2 separate regions of the Homo sapiens genome follow, and region 1 is linked to region 2. A link means that fine-mapping ties the variant in region 2 to the expression of a gene that starts in the linked region. Tissue or cell type: gastroesophageal junction. Region 2 holds a variant in brackets; the other region holds the start of a gene. All regions are shown on one strand. Distances are from middle to middle.

Region 1 (2,761 bases), 120 kb after region 2:
ATTTAAATAATGTTATTCACAAGCACATGCATTAAGACTAAATGCCCCTAAATTAGGTGCTTCTTCTAAAACAGTTTATCCTGATAAAGGCATACTAAATTGATGCTTCAGTGGTAGTCCCAGCTAGTGTGATCACGCTTAACACCGAAGGAAAAAACTCTTAGGTCTAAAAAATCTTAACACAGCAGTAGTCAAAAAGTACCCATTAGAACACAGTTTTTCAGAAATCAAAATAGGTATTGAACATATTTTCTCTTCTATGACCACAGACTTTGTATTGCATCCCTGTTATTAAAACTATGTCTAGTCCATCTTAACTCCTCTATTTAAAATACAGACACTCCTTCATAGAATTCACAATCAGATAAATTGGCATACATAGTAACCTTATATTCAGGCAGAGTATAGGTATTTTATGTATCTTAAAACGCACTATCATAAAACACATATAATTAAAGTAGCATGTCTCTAAAAATGGAGCTGTTATACTGCATATATAATACCCGGAACCCATAAAATTACACAGATCTGGACAGGCACATTGCCTTTCACGAAATGTGAAGTCTGTTGAGATGAATTGGTAATAAAGATGAATCCTTGATTTTTGTTCTTTGATTCAGGTTTTTAAGATTGATGGTCTCCTAAGTGCCACTGAGACTAGAAATTCTCACTGTGCAAATTAAGTGTCCGTTAGAGGTAGGAGGGTAATGTAGGTTGTACACTTAAGCATTAAGTTGTTAAAGGACAACGAAATGGGCGGGTAGTGAAAGACACTAAAAACATGTGGGGAGGTAACATGAGATATCACATTGTTATTTCAAGCAGTAAATAATACAGCTTGGAATTAACAATGTCCACGGTAAAATTAACACAACCGAACTTGGAGGTTTTCTAGTATCTAGGAAACCAGCAGGGTTGAGGATCAGTTCCACCTCTAAACACCCCAACTAGATAGCCTCAGTTTGGGTAAAAAGAGAAAAAGGGCACTTGTTCTTTTGGCGGGGCTGGCCCAACTTCCTGCTGAACTACTGGCCCTCAGCAGCTTCCTCCAACACAGACGTGAAGAAGAGCCCCAGCCCCTAAGGAAGAGAGAGGGTTTATGACAATCTGTAAAGTGTCAGGGGGAAACAAAAGGTGCAGGGTTCGGCTGCCGTGAACCCGGAGTCCCAGGGCGCTCCCTCTACACAGAGCCTGAGGTCTTCCTTACCACCGGGTTGAGGCAGGCCATGACAGCACCTCCAGCACCTGGCCCTTTGCGCCTGCGCGGCACGCAGTGCCCTCGGAGGGAAACACTGGGCACGTTTTGAACGATGTACGTCAGGTGCGCAACCACGGAGAACGCCGGGGGCGTGGCTGGGCAGAAGAGAACGTTAATAGATGGAGCGGGTTTGAGTGGAGGTGGGGGTCAAGGCGGAGAGGCGGTCGGCCTGTGTGAGAAAAGAGACCCGCTAAAACGGATGGTTAGGTTGGGTCTAGCCGGCTTTGGGCCGTTCACAGGTTGTTTCCTCAATCCGTGAAAGATGAAAATCGAGGAGGGGAAATGCAGGGGTAGATCTCAGTCTAACTTCAGCTTTGAAGAAGATGGGGAAAGAAAAGAGGGGAGACTAGTGATATCTGTCCTCTGCATTTACCAATTTTCATTCCTCCCCCTACACCCCACTCACAGCTGAACTCCATTTTTTGTTGTATAAAAATATAACAAGAGCCAAATTTTTCTAAGACTTGTCAGCGTGGTACAGCAGCATCAGCAGCATCTGGGAACTTGTTAAATATGCAAATGATGGGTCCCACCCCAGCCCTCCTGAATCAGACTGGAGGATGGAGCCTAGCATTCTGTAACTTTAACATGCTCTCCAGGTGATTCCAATGGGCGCTGACATGAGACCCCCTGACCTAAGACAAAGAGTCTCAATTTTGGGTGCACATTAAAATCACGCGGGGAGCTTTAAAAAAAAGTTTAGTGCCTGGATCCCACTCGGCAAAATCTGATTCTAATATGCAGCCAAGGTGGAAAACCACTGCTAAAAGAAAGTCAGCAGCTAATACGTTCCTATCTCCTTTTCTTAGTTAGGCAGAAATCACCAGCTGTCTACCTACAATAATTCTCTCTCCTGAAGGGCAGAGCATCTTGGGGCATACGTTACCTAGCTAAGACTGAGGGAAGATGTAAGCACAGATAACCTGGAGGATTAGAAAAGGGAAGAAGTCACCATCTGTTGCCACAACTCTGCCTTTTTGGCAGGGTCTCACACTGTTGCCCAGGCTGCAGTGCAGTGGCATGATCACAGCTCGCTGCAGCGTCTACCTCCTGGGCTCAAGCAACCCACTGACTTCAGCCTCCCAAGGAGCTGAGACTACAGGTGTGTGTGCCACCACGCCCAGCTATTTTGTGTGTGTGAGTGTGTGTGTGTGTTTTGTAGAGACAGGTTTTCGCCATGTTGCCCAGGCTGGTCTCAAACTCTTGGTCTCAAGTGATCCACCAGCCGCAGCCTCCCAAAGTGCTGGAACTATAGGCATGACTCGCCGCACTTGGCCACAACTCTTCTAAACAGCCTTTCTATCCTGCAAATAGGTCTTGACCTAACCAGATGGATACGTTATTTGATGATTAAAAACTCTATTATATTTAAAATTGGCTGTTTATTTATTTATTTGTGCAAGTAAGTGCAGTAGAGCTGTTTATCCCCTACCACTGTGTATGTGATTTGCCTGGGTCAGGTACCTTATGGTTTGTGAGTTTCAAGTAGCTGATTTATATGAT
Region 2 (2,761 bases):
TCCTAGTGTATGTTCATGTGCAGGAGGAGGTTAATGTCTAGTGTTTCGTTTACATATATTTTAATTCTGCAAACAGTATATTATATCTCCGTAATTTCTTGTTTCTCTCAGTTCCATGATTTGAAGATCCACCCATGCTACTCTGTGTGCCTTTAGACTCTCACTTCTACAGGCTCTCCTATTCAGTTAGGTGTGTACGGTCCAAATTTTACATACTCCCTCACCTAGTAATGGACACCCAGGTTGCCTCCAAGCCCCTGATGCCACAATGCTGTGAAGAAAACGTTTGTACAAGATTCCTTTAAGTATCAATTTGAGAATTTTTCTCAATGTATACAGGAGTGGAATTGCAGGGTTATTAAGATCATTGTTCACATTGCTAAAAGTTTCTGGCATCATGGAAAGAATCATAGATGCATCCAATAGAGAGTGGGACACCTTCAAAGGGAGTACATTCAAACAGTTATCAACAAATCATAAACTTTATTAATAAATTCTGGAGACAGATACTTGAATGCTTAGGAACTGCTACCCATCAAAGACGAATCAGAAATGAAGATGTGACATTTCTGAAAAAAAAAACATATAAGTCTGTAGGGAAAATGGTTTTCGATTCACAGGACCACATTCTCTGTGTTGCCTCATGGGAACACATCTGTTGTGAAAAGCACAGTGCACCTGCCTAACCCCACCTCTCTCCCCATTCCCTGGCCCCCAGGACTCTTTCTTGACCCAGCCATATCCACAAAGTCACCTGCTGTTCACTTGGTGTCTCTTTTATAGGGGAGGCTCTAGTTTCACTCTCCCCACTGCTGCCTTTCCTGCTCTGCAGCATCAACATCAACGCTGCAAAATTTCAGCTTGCACCAGGGCTGCTTCTGTAGCCACTGGAGACTGCCATTGCATGATCTACAGCTTCTTGCACTTCTGTCCGACCTTTGCTCCTCATCCCTCCTCCCTACATCAATCAAAAGCTCAGGCAACCTCCCTGATCAAATCTGAACCAAACTGCTCCTCTGGGAGTCACACCATGCTCCCATTTGGAGGAGGAGGCTGCCTGCTGAGAGACTTCAGCTTCTGGGCTCCATTTGCATGAATAAACAGCTCTGAAGTGTTCTGCTGAAGCTTTTATGTAAACACTCTCCAAAATATGTTCTGCACTGCATTATCCCCAGCAATAAAGATTCTGGAATCAGAATTTGGCTGTCAGTTTTATTGATGCTGCAAGGGGTACAGTGGAATACAGCTTTCTCTTCTGTAAATTTATTGGTTTGGCAGTGCAGAGAGCAATAAAACTGTGTTTTTAATCAGGAAGCCAAGCGAACATGATTCCAGAAGAAATATAGGAAGCAAAT[ATGCCATC/C]ACAAGAAGATTTCTTCCCACACTGTCCCTGTTCTTCTCGGATCCTTTGTTAAATGAGTTTAGGTGTTAAACGATGTCCTTCTTGGGAATGCCTTCGGGAATAGAATCAGAGACCAAAGTTGGATTACTTTCTCTAGGTTATATCATTTCTAAGAGATTATTGAGTGAAAATATTTTTCTGAAATGAAATTTCCTCCCTATTAGCACCTAGGGAGGAACGGCTGGTAAACCGCTTTGCAGAAGAAATAGAGCGAATGTGACATGCTTCCTCTCAGGAGAAGCAAGGTTGCAATGTCTGTCCCTCCACCTTGCTCACCAAGACATGGGATTAAGAGTGACATGCTTTGGCCAGTATTGCACAGGGAAAGGATGTCTGGAGTCATTCTGCCTCGTTGTAACCTTGTTCAGGTTACTTAGTCTCTTTGTGACCCAATTTCTTCTGCTATGTAAGAGAAATTCCCACCTCACACCATTGTTGAGTGAGTAAAAGAAGGTCACAAATGGGTGTGTATAACTCACATAGTAGCTTACAACTGTAGCAAGTCCCTTCTGGGACTGTAAGAAATCTTACTTTCATCTGCCCATCATGGAGGTGTTCTTTCCTAGAAGCTTAAAGCAGTCTCTGCTGCATAGACATGTTAAAAACAAGACAGCATCTTTCACCTTTGTTCTCATATTCCTGATACTCACATACTCACTTCCCACCTGAAATATCCTTGCCCACTCCCTTCCTCTCTGCCAGTCCTTGGGCCAAAACATTAAACCATTGTAGATACTCAATAAATGTTGGCTGCATGTTCGTCCCTGCCTTGCAGTTGCTTTCTCCTGAGTTATCTTAACCTCCAGTTCCTTTAGCATTCACACATCATCCTATACTGGTTTTGCATTTCTGAGTGTCACTCTTTTCTCAAATCTTAAGTACAGCATAGATTTTATTTCAATTTCAAGAATATTTAGATTTTTCCTGTGGGTATAAGTGAATGCCTGAAGGAAATGATCTCATAGACATTCCCCGCAAATGACATGAGATGCCCATGTGAGTTAACCATAGGATCAAAGTTGTCTCTTTGGAATAATATTGAAATAGGCTACCTGGGAAAGACAGTAGAGATCAAGATGGGAGCATGTTCTTAATGAATCTTCTGTTTTCCTGCCTGCATGATTTCCAGTTGTATTTTCATCATTAATGTCTCCACTCTACTCAACATAGTTTTTGTCCATCTTCCCAATCAAGTCTATAGGATCACTCTACAACTATTTAACTATATACTTGGTGCCAAGCCCTGTTCTTTACATGGATTATCCTGATTAATTATCACAATGACCCTGTGAAGTAGGAATTATTATTGCAATTTTACAGACAAAGAAACTGAGCTGGAGGGCTTAAATAACATGCTTA

Evidence for each region. PIP is the estimated chance that this variant, and not a neighbour inherited with it, causes the effect.
Region 1: it holds the start of GTF2A1L, and the variant in region 2 is fine-mapped to the expression of GTF2A1L in gastroesophageal junction (GTEx, PIP above 0.99). The same link has a PIP of 0.9 or more in esophagus muscle.

The regions. Positions count from the first base shown.
Region 1 is chr2:48,616,342-48,619,102 of GRCh38, reverse strand. GTF2A1L (general transcription factor IIA subunit 1 like) reads right to left here and starts at 1,247. Exons shown (of 9, transcript NM_006872.5): 1 at 1,208-1,247. The coding sequence starts at 1,228. All of the region lies in intron 3 of STON1-GTF2A1L (STON1-GTF2A1L readthrough), which reads right to left.
Region 2 is chr2:48,731,586-48,734,346 of GRCh38, reverse strand. The region is part of intron 10 of STON1-GTF2A1L (STON1-GTF2A1L readthrough); the gene reads right to left. All of the region lies in intron 1 of LHCGR (luteinizing hormone/choriogonadotropin receptor), which reads left to right. Among named protein-coding and RNA genes, the nearest start is that of LHCGR, 23 kb to the left of the region's middle. The variant ATGCCATC/C (reference allele first, on the strand shown) is at 1,356.